Linked DNA regions of Homo sapiens: region 1 is linked to region 2. The links come from fine-mapping of genetic effects on gene expression. A gene starts in region 2. The other region holds a variant in brackets. All regions are shown on one strand. Distances are from middle to middle.

Region 1 (5,372 bases), 22 kb after region 2:
CGGCTTGCTGGCCTCTGAGTGGAACACCCCATGTTTGACTTTGTTGGACAAACCACAAAACTGTCTGACACCTGTGTGAAACTTGTGTCACCCAAGCAGGACATTGGTGATGTGCTCCAGGAAAGTCTCCAGTACCTGGGCTGGAAACACATTGGGATGTTTGGAGGCTACTCTGGGGCTTCCTCCTGGGATGGAGTGGATGAACTGTGGAGGGTTGTAGAGAATGAACTCAAATCCCATTTTATCATCACTGCCAGCATGAGATACACCAACAATAGTCTAGTCCTTCTTCAAGAGCATCTTTGGAGGATATCATCAATTGCCAGGGGTAAGTAGAAAAGTCTTCTGTTGCTTTTATTTGGAGAGAAAAATGGGACAAGCAGATTTGAAAAAAAAAAAAACAACCCAAAAAACTCTTCACTTTTCTATGAGTGTAAAAGCAGATGGAAACAAGGTACAAAATTAATAATATATAAAAGCAACTTCCTTTATTGCTTGACATCACTAACAAAAAATTGTGGGTTTTTTTTTTTGGTCTAAAGTAAAACCCCACATGCTACAGTGTTATGATACACAGCGCAAGTTCTAGAAGCATCTTACAGGTGGGCTGGGTCCTGGACTTCACTATTTGTTTACAGCATGGGCTCTGCAGATTGACAGACCTAGGTTTGAATCCAGTCTCTGACATTTTAGCTGTGTCCTCCTTGGGTAAGTACCTTAATCTCTCTGTATCTCAAATATCTTTTCTATAAAATGGAGACAACCATCCTACCTATGTCACAGAAAGGGGAGGATTAAATAAGGTTATGCCTGTAAAGTGCTTAGCACCATGTCTGGACAAGTAGTTGGTCAACATATGACAGCAATTATTTTTGTGGTGATGCCTATAAGGCTCAACTTTCTAGCATGAATTAGTAACTGACTCCTTTCTGTTCCTCAAATAAACTGAACTCTCTCCAGCCCTGAGACTTTAGGGTTTTCTACTCCCTTGGCCTAGGGTGTCACCTGCACCCACTCCAACCAGTGATGCTAATGTGGGACTCTAAGGCACAAGTGGCTCTCACTTGTTTTTCTTCCACAGCTACCTCCCTGTGTCCCTGTTGAATCTCTAATAAAGGGCTTGAAAGACCAACACTGATCCAATGAGGCAATTGTTATGTGGTCTCAGTCACATTCCACCCTACCCAGCACCTTCTTAAGGGTAGCGTCCTCTCATCCTTGCATCCTTGCCGACTGGGTCCAGAGCCCACCTCCTCAGGAAGGCCTTCTCTAACCACTTGATGTGAAGCTGTTTCCCCTCCCCACCCATTAGCATCACAGCATCCGTTTCCAACCTCACTAATTAGAATCTTCAATGATCTCTTTAATCTGTCCACTTGTATGCTGTCTGCTGGCTCGTTCACTGCTATGTCTGTGCCCAGCAAAGTGCCTGACACATAATTGGAGCTCAGATAAATAGACTATAAATTACTTCATTTAAAAAACTAGCTGGGTGCGTTGGCGCACGCCTGTAATCCCAGCACTTTGGGAGGCTGAGGTGGGCAGATCATTCAAGGCCAGGAGTTGGAGACCAGCCTAGTCAACATGGTGAAATGCTGTCCCTACTAAAAATACAAAAATTAGCCAGGTGTGATGGTGCATGCCTGTAATCCCAGCTGTCCTGGAGGCTGAGACATAAGAATTGCTTGAACCCAGGAGGCGGAGGTTGCAGTGAGCCGAGATTGTACCATTGTACTCCATGCAGCCTGGTCAATACAGCAGACTCTGTCTCAAAAATAAATAAATAAAAAATAAAACCCACTACTTCATTTGTGTATTCTGAAAATGAACGGTGATGGGATTAAACGGCAGAAAAGTACCATGGCCTACTCCTCCCTCCGGCCAGCCCAACTCAGAAAGTCCAAATGCCCTTGAAAGTCCACATGTCCAAAGGTCCTCTGTGAACTCCTCTTAGCTGAAGTGTGGCTGACAAGTCACAAGCCAGGTCTGCTGTTCTGATTTTTGAGCCAAAAAGAAAAAAAAAACCTAGAGCACAGAGGTGATCCCAAACTTTTTTCACTTGTACATTGTGGGGAGGCTGCAGCAAAGACTTCAGTGCTATAACTGCTAGTTTGTACACTTCAGGTTTGGTTAAAGAATGTAAAAACTCAGGGACTAGTTTAGGCATTCCTGTTTCTTAAGGCATGCCCAAGGAAAGAAAAAGTTCACGTCTCATTTACAGTGACTTTAGGCCAGACTTAGAGTGAGAGCATGCGTGAGAAAGCACACATACACAAGCATGTGCAACTGGCGGACTCTGGTTTTCATTCTTATAGTTATCATCTTAACGTGCAGCTCAGAGGATGCAAAAATTATTCTTCTGGCTGCAGCAAACCTGGGACTCAGCACTGGAGAATTTGTTTTCATCATTTTGCAGCAGTTGGAGGTGGGTACCGTTGACCACTCAATGGCTCTGGTAGTAAGAGGTAGCAAGTATGGAGCACTCGTTATGACCCACATGTATTAGCTCACTGAGCACTCACTACAACCCTGTGAGGTAGGCACTCTCGCGTCCTCTTCTTAAAATTAGGACACTAAGA[C/G]AGAGCTGGAAGAACTTGCCCAGAGTTCTTCTCCACAGCTAGTGAAAGGCTGAACCAGGCCATGAACTAGGTCAGCTGGCTTGAAGGCCTAGCCCGCTGTATTCCGTATCAGACAACAACAGTTGAGGAACTACTGTCATTTCTACCGGGCAGCTGAGACCTTCCCAAGGGACCCTCAGACACAAGCGGCTCTCACTTCTTTTTCTTCCACAGCTACCGCCGTGTCCCTGCTGAAGCTTTAACAAAGGGCTGGAAAGACCAACATACAGATGCAACGAAGCAATTCTTAGGCAGTCTGATTCTTTTGGTAATGAGAATGGCTAAAAACACAACTGCTTACTATGAGGACTGAGTTACACATTTTACACACGATTGCACTTAATATTCTCAATGGCTTTGCAAGGCAGTTCCTAAATGCATTATTTATGTGCCTGTACATTTTGTATTTGGTATTTCGAACAGCCTTGGAAGGTAGATATTATTGTTATTCCAATGTACAGGTAAAAAAACCCAAGGCTTAATTAAGGTACCTTATCTAAGATTTCAGCACTCCCAAGTGGCATACCTAGTCTTCCAGACTGGGCCTTTCAGTCTGAGCTCACCCCACACAACTCTGCCTTCTGGAGAGCTTATGGAGTACTGGGCCTCACTGTGAGTGCTTAATACATTAACGCTTATTGCAGCCCACCACCACACCATGGGGTATTTTGGATCTGGAAATTGGTGGGTTCTTGGTCTCACTGACTTCAAGAACGAAGCTGCGAACCCTCGAGGTGAGTGTTACACCTCTTAAAGATGGTGTGTCCGGAGTTTGTTCCTTCACATGTTCAGATGTGTCTGGAGTTTCTTCCTTTTGGTGGGTTTGTGGTCTCGCTGACTTAAGGAGTGAAGTTGCAGACCTTCACGGTAAATGTTACAGCTCTTAAACGCAGCGTGGCTGGAATTGTTCATTCCTTCACGTGGGTTTGTGGTCTCGCTGGCCTCAGGAGTGAAATTACAGACCTTCACAGTGAGTGCTACAGCTGTTACAGGTGGCGCATCCGGAATCGTTCATCACTCCCAGTGGGTTCACGGTCTCGGCAGCTTCAGGAGTAAAGCTGCAGACTTTCGCACCATGTTATAGCTCACAAAGGTAACATAGAGCTAGAGCAAGCAGCAGCAAAACTTTAGCCCAAAAAGCAAGACAACAAACTTTCCAAAAAGAACCCAAAAGGGTTATCGCTGTTAGCCCACGCAGCTTTTTATTCCCTTATCTGACCCCACCCACATCCTGCTGATTGGTCCACTTAACAGAGAGCTGATTGGTCCATTTTGACAGGGTGCTGATTGGTGCGTTTACACACCTTGAGCTAGACAGAGTGCTGATTGGTGTGTTTACAATCCTTTAGCTAGACATAAAAGTTTTCCAAGTGCCGACCCAACTCAGGAACCCTGCTGCCTTCGCCTAGTGGATGCCGCCTGCGGAGCTGCCTGCCAGTCCCAAGCCACGCACCCACCCTTCTCAGCCCTTGGGCGGTCGATGGGCGGGGCCCTTTGGGGACGCTGGGGCTGCGCGGAAGCCCACTGGTGGCGGGGGGGGCGGAGGGGAGGCATGGCAGCTGCAGGTCCTAAGCCCTGCCGCGTGGGGAGGCAGCTGAGGCGCGGTGAGAATTCGAGTGTGGCGCGGACGGGCCGGCAGTGCTGTGGCACCCGGTGAACCCTCCGCAGCCGCTGGCCCAGGTGCTGAGCCCCTCACTGCCCGGGGCTGGCGGCGCTGGCCGGAGCTCCGAGTGCGGAGCCCACCCCCACCCGGAACTCACGCTGTCCAGCGAGCGGCACCCAGCCCCGGTTCCCGCCCGCGATTCTCCCTCCACACCTCCCTGCAAGCAGAGGGAGCTGGTTCCGGCCTCGGGCAACCCAGAAAGGGGCTCCCACAGTGCAGCGGCGGGCTGAAGGGCTCCTGAAGCACCGCCAGAGTGGACGCCGAGGCCAAGGAGGCGCCAAGAGCGAGCGAGGGCTGCTAGCACGTTGTCACCTCACTTTTATCATCCTCGTTTTACAGAAGAGGAAACTGAGGTTCAGAGAGGTGCCAAAACTTGCCCAAGGCCATCCAACTAGTATGAGGGAGAGCTAGCATTCAAACCCAGGTGGCCTGGGCTCCTTTTCTACCTCTCATCAAGTGCACTGATGCATGGAAATAATGCACGTAGTATCTGCCTCACAGGGGGCTATTGTGTCTGTGCTTGTAAGCATCTTACACAACAGGCATCTACAAAAGCTACTTGCCTTTTCCTATGGACACGGTGCATTATTTTTCTAGCAGTTTTATCTTTCTAAAATAAGCTTTTTAAAAAAATCACAAGAAGCTGAAATAGGACAGAAGAAAATAAAGGGAGATATATAGTAATGTCCCAGATTTTTCTTTCTTTATCATGAAGTCTTTCAGATCCACAAAAGCATCTCAGATTTCTTTGGGTAGGGAGCTGGAATCCTAAAGGCATGCCAGACTTTCCAGAACACTCTCTTACCCTAGATATCCATTGTGACCGCCTCCCTTTCTCTTCACTTTTCCTCTCATCTCTGCCTTCAGGCACATTGTTTTGGCAGGGAAACTTTTCAACTCCCCTGTTGCTTTCTCCCACACATTGATGATCCATTCCAACTGGTGTGTAATGGCAGAAAGAAGGTAGAACTAAGAATACACCAATGTCTATGCAATTGAATTCATGCTGCTTCATGAAAGAATAGCATAAATCTATTTTATGAAACTATTCCCAGTATAGGTTTAGGTGGAAAAAAATCAAGCTGCATTAT
Region 2 (5,372 bases):
ATGGGGGCTTCCCGGCTCTGAGTTCTTCCTGCCACACGAGTCCCTGTCCTTCTTCCCTCGCTCGTGGTTCCTCCAGAGACAGGGTGGCTTCAGAGCGTCCATGCAGGCAGAAGGCCGGCCCAGAGTGTCCCCAGTTCTGCCCTGCTCTGAGCTGTCCCGAGTCAGGCCATGTCAGGCTTTCTAACGTGCTCGGGGACTTCACTTCCTGGTTTTAATTTTTTTTTTCACAACTGAAAGTGGAAGTGTTCTGACCAGGAGGGGAGAAGCTGCCAAAGCTACCCTGGCTCCGTGTCAAAGCCTTTCACCTCAGCCCCTAAGGGCCGACACAAAAGCCAGCTTGCCTCAACACAGTTGACCCTGCCCTCCTGTGGCCTATCATCTTTCAACTAAGATGAAAACAAACAAACTAAAATGACTTGAGGTGCCCCCTCAGATCAGAAGCCTCACAGAGGCAGAGGTGACGCTGTTCCCTGCTGGATTCGGAGGACAGGAAAGTCTGGCTAGAGGGTACCTCAGCCCTCAGACCCACACAAACACCTTCTACCCCGCCTCTCTCCAGTCGCCAGAGCTGCCTGCCTTGGTCTCTGAAGAAGTTCTGGCAAAGCCAAGAAAATAAGCAAGTCAGGAACGACAGGGCTGTGAGTCGTTCAATTGGCATGGTTTCTTTCCCTCTGATACAGTCACACCTCAAAACTTAACTTAAAAATCGATTCTTTCGCCTTGGTCACCCCCAGTATTACCAGGACCTGTATTAGTCTCATTTTTGATCCGCCTAAGGCTGTGGCTACAGGGGGGCCCTGGAGCTACCATTCTCAGATTAGGAAGCCGAAATGACAAATTTTCCTGCCCCTTCCCCACCTCACAGATACCTCAGAATGAAGCAGCACTTTCTCCAGCCTCGATCCCCCACGAAGGCTCACAGGAAGTTCAGCATGATCCTGGCTCTTTGCTGGAGCTAGATTAGGGTTTGTTCTTTCTACAGAGCAGTTCTTAAAAGCTTCCTACTAAGGAAGCCAGGGTGAGCTGTGCCACAGTCTCAGAGAACACAAGAGCTGAGCCCTTGGCCTCTGGGGAGCCGCCTTTGGACATGGAAGAAAGATGAAGGGCTGGGAGACGAAGTGGGGCCTGTGGCATTCCATCCTCTGGCTCATCTCACGGCTGGAGGAGCACTTGTCATTTGCTTAGTTTCAGGAACTCAGCTCCCCAAGAGGCAACTTCCTCTAGAGGAGAGCAGAGGATGGCAGAGTGGGTGTCGAATCTCAGCCACACTAATACCTCTGAGCCCTTCACCGGGTGCTGTCTTCCTTCACCAAAGGGCTCAGGGCCAGGGGAAGATGAGGTTTTATTTCTTTTTTTTTTATTGACCTCCTCCAGTAAAAATGCTCAAGTTCAGGAAGGTTGAGTCATTCTAAAGGCCCATCAGAGTTGTATTCCTATCAATCCTCTGTGCACATGAGTGACACCCTCAGGATTTCAGGGGGTAACTGAAAGCTTTGGCAACCCACAACAATTCTGCATTATTGGGCAGGCTGTGGAAACTGACCAATCAAGTCTCAAATTCTAGCCACACCACCTTGGAGCTATGTAGCTTAGGCCATGCTGTTTAACAGCCTGGAGACGCACTATGCCTCTGTGAAATGGGAAGGATACCACCTGCTTTATAGGATGAGATACACCAATGAAGTAACATACATAATCTACCCAGAACAGTCCCCAGCACCTAATCGAATATCTGCTGATTCCCTTCCTCTCTGTCTGCCAAATGGGACTCTCTGCCCTCAGCAGCTGACGCACGATCCTTCTAACTACACTGAGACAGAAATTTCTTAATGGAAGATGAAGGAGACCCACATTCTGGCTTGGTGTGCTTTAGTACACTTACCAAAATCAGTGTTCCCTTCCAATTCCATCCCCTGCTAGCATTTGGATAGCTCATATATCTCCACCCCTTTTCCAACTGATTTTTTTCTTTGCCTCCCACACAAGTCAGCTGAGATTACTATTCAACTAAATGTAATTTCATGTTATTAAAGAGCCTTAGGTTGAGCATAACAAATCCCACTTTCTTTCCCCACACCAATCCCCTCCCTACTATCTCACAGATATATTCAATATAGTGCAGGTAGTATCATTGCAGCTTACCTTGGAAGAAGACTCTCCCTTCCTGGGTCCAGGAAGTGCTCCCCTCACAGCTGGCTGTATTGATTCAGCACCACATTCAGGCACTTCTACTCTTTCCACAGCTCCTAGGACTGACTGGGACACACCCGAAGCTACTGTGTACTGTCCTGAGAGTGGCCAACACACTCCCCTGGAACCTTTGAATCTGTCACAACAGAAGTTCAAAGGTAGAAGTTACCTGTTCAAACACTTGTAGTAACCTCTGACAGTAAGAAAAGCAGTGTTGGGCAAAAGATTAAAACAAGAGATTGTTATGCAATGGGCTTAAGCGGGAAAAAAAAAAAAGACGGCCCTTAGTTCAGAAAGCTAACGTTTACCAAGAGAAACCTTCGATAAAGCTCTACCTCAGGGGAAGGAGAAGGGGTAGACAGGGCTTTGCATCTGCTTTGGGGGCACAATCCTTGAGACTGTGATAGGAAGAGGAAGGTCTAGATTACTAGAAGAAAAAGGGCTCCTTGAGATCAGAGTGAGAGAAAAATGAGAAGCCACTTTAATTGGCTCAAGCTATAACTTTAGGATTCAGACTAAGCAGAGGTGTGCATTTGCAGACCAGCTATCTTCTAGAAGGGACCACTGCCCCCTTCAGAATTAGAACGTCTCCAAGACAACCAAATGAGCCAAATCAGTCTAGAGTCTAGGCTGAGAGACAAGCCTAGGACGGTTGTTTTTAGGATTCGGAATCACGAACACAGTCTGCAGCACACATAGTTTAGCAAGGCGCTAGAATAGGAAGCATTGCTTCCTGGCTAACACGGTGAAACCCCGTCTCTACTGAATACACAAAAAATTAGCCGGGCGTGGTGGTGGGCCCCTGTAGTCCCAGCTACTTGGGAGGCTGAGGCAGGAGAATGGTGTGAACCCGGGAGGTGGAGCTTGCAGTGAGCCAAGATCGCGCCACTGCACTCCAGCCTGGGCGACACAGCGAGACTCTGTCTCAAAAAAAAAAAAAAAAAAAGAAGCATTGCTACTGCGTCATGGCTCAGCCATCCTACTCTCTCCTTTTTTTTTTTTTTTTTTTTTTTTGAGACGGAGTCTCACCGCAACCTCCACTTCCTGAGTTCAAGCAATTCTCCTGCCTCAGCCTCTGGAGTGGCTGGGATTACAGGCATGCACCACAATGCCTGGCTAATTTTTTTTTTTTTTTTTGTATTTTTAGCAGAGACAGGGTTTCACCATGTTGGCCAGGCTGGTCTCGAACTCCTGACTTCAAGTGATCTGCCTGCCTCGGCCTCCCGAAGTGCTGGGATTATAGGCATGAGCCACCATGCCCAGCCTCTCTTTCCACTTTGAAGTTCTCTAGTCACCATTCTTGATTCCAAGATCATTAGGACTGCAAGGCATCATTACTAAACAAAAACAGTGGGTAGAAATGAAAGAAACCCTGGAGATGATGTGCAAACTTACTGTATAGGTGAGGCCAGTGAGGCCTTTTCAGGTGAAAGAAGGCTTCTGGAATCACACAACCAGTCGGTCAAGACAGCACCTGACTCAGAGTCATGAGAACCCCTGCAGTGCCTTGGCCCCTATGCTGCCCCATTGATCTGTGTATGTTTAGCTACCAGAATGAAGCCGCGGACCCTCGCAGTGAGTGTTACAGTTCTTAAAGGCGGTGTGTCTAGAGTTTGTTCCTTCTGATGTTCAGATGTGTTCAGAGTTTCTTCCTTCTGGTGGGTTTGTGGTCTTGCTGGCTCAGGAGTAAAGCTACAGACCTTTGCAGTGAGCATTACAGCTCATAAAAGCAGCGTAGACCCAAAGAGTGAGCAGTAGCAAGATTTATTGCAAAGAGCTAAAGAACAAACCTTCCACAGTGTGAAAAGAACCCCAGGTGGTTGCCACTCCGGGCTCGGACAGCCTGCTTTTATTCTTTTATCTGGCCCCACCCACATCCTACTGATTGGTCCATTTTACAGAGAGCCGATTGGTCTGTTTTACAGAGAGCTGATTGGTCCGTTTTGACAGGGTGCTGATTGGTGTGTTTACAATCCCTGAGCTAGACACAAAAGTTCGCCATGTCCCCACTAGATTAGCTAGATACAGAGTGTTGACACAAAAGTTTTCCATGTCCCCACTAGATTAGCTAGATCCAGAGTGTCGATTGGTGCATTCACAAACCCTGAGCTAGACCAGGGTGCTGAATGGTTTACAAACCTTGAGCTAGACACAGAGTGCCAATTGGTGTATTTACAATCCCTTAGCTAGACATAAAGGTTACCCAAGTCCCTACCAGAGTAGCTAGATACAGAGTGTCAATTGGTGCATTCACAAACCCTGAGCTAGACACGGGGGGCTGATTGGTGTGTTTACAAACCTTGAGCTAGATACAGAGTGCCCATTGGTGTATTTACAATCCCTTAGCTAGACATAAAGGTTCTCCAAGTCCCCACCAGAGTAGCTAGATACAGAGTGTCCATTGGTGCATTCACAAACCCTGAGCTAGACACAGGGTGCTGATTGGTGTGTTTCCAAACCTTGAGCCAAATACTGAGTGCCGATTGGTGTATTTATAATCCCTTAGCTAGACATAAAGGTTCTCCAAGTCCCCACCAGACTCAGGAGGCCAGCTGGCTTCACCCAGTCGATCCCGCACCGTGGCCACAGGTGGAGCTGGCTGCCAGTCCCACACCGTGTGCCCACACTCCTCAGCCTTTGTGTGTCTGGAATTGGTGGGTTCTTGGTCTCACTGACTTCAAGAATGAAGCTGCACACCCTGGCGGTGAGTGTTACAGTTCTTAAAGGCAGCGTGTCCGGAGTTTGTTCCTTCTGATGTTCGGATGTGTTTGGAGTTTCTTCCTTCTGGTGGGTTCGTGATCTCACTGGCTCAGGAGTGAAGCTGTGGACCTTCGCGGTGAGTGTTACAGCCCTTAAGGTGGGGCGTCTGGAGTTGTTTGTTCCTCCCGGTGGGTTCGTGGTCTTGTTGGCTTCAGGAGTGAAGCTGCAGACCTTCGTGGTGAGTGTTACAGCTCATAAAGGCAGTGTAGACCCAAAGAGTGAGCAGTAGCAAGATTTATTGCAAAGAGCGAAAGAACAAAGCTTCCACAGCATGGAAGGGAACCCCAGCAGGTTGCCACTGCTGGCTGGGGCAGCCTGCTTTTATTTCCTTATCTGGCCCCACCCACATCCTGCTGATTGGTCCATTTTACAGAGAGCTGAGTGGTCTGTTTTAACAGGGTGCTGATTGGTGTGTTTACAAT

Which allele goes with the higher level. Positions count from the first base shown, and alleles are read on the strand shown. Sizes are in standard deviations (SD) of each study's normalised expression.
For the expression in whole blood of the gene that starts at base 2,296 in region 2, G is the low allele of the variant in region 1 and C is the other (moderate effect, 0.49 SD a copy in TwinsUK).

What was found. PIP is the estimated chance that this variant, and not a neighbour inherited with it, causes the effect.
Region 1: its variant is the best candidate, but not a certain one, in a credible set for the expression of ACSL5 in whole blood (TwinsUK, PIP 0.64).

The regions. Positions count from the first base shown.
Region 1 is chr10:112,348,798-112,354,169 of GRCh38, reverse strand. It overlaps the pseudogene GUCY2GP. Among named protein-coding and RNA genes, the nearest start is that of ACSL5, 23 kb to the left of the region's middle. The variant C/G (reference allele first, on the strand shown) is at 2,580.
Region 2 is chr10:112,371,040-112,376,411 of GRCh38, reverse strand. ACSL5 (acyl-CoA synthetase long chain family member 5) reads right to left here and starts at 2,296. Exons shown (of 21, transcript NM_203379.2): 1 at 2,143-2,296. RefSeq lists enhancers at 1-63, 86-305, 64-564, 446-595.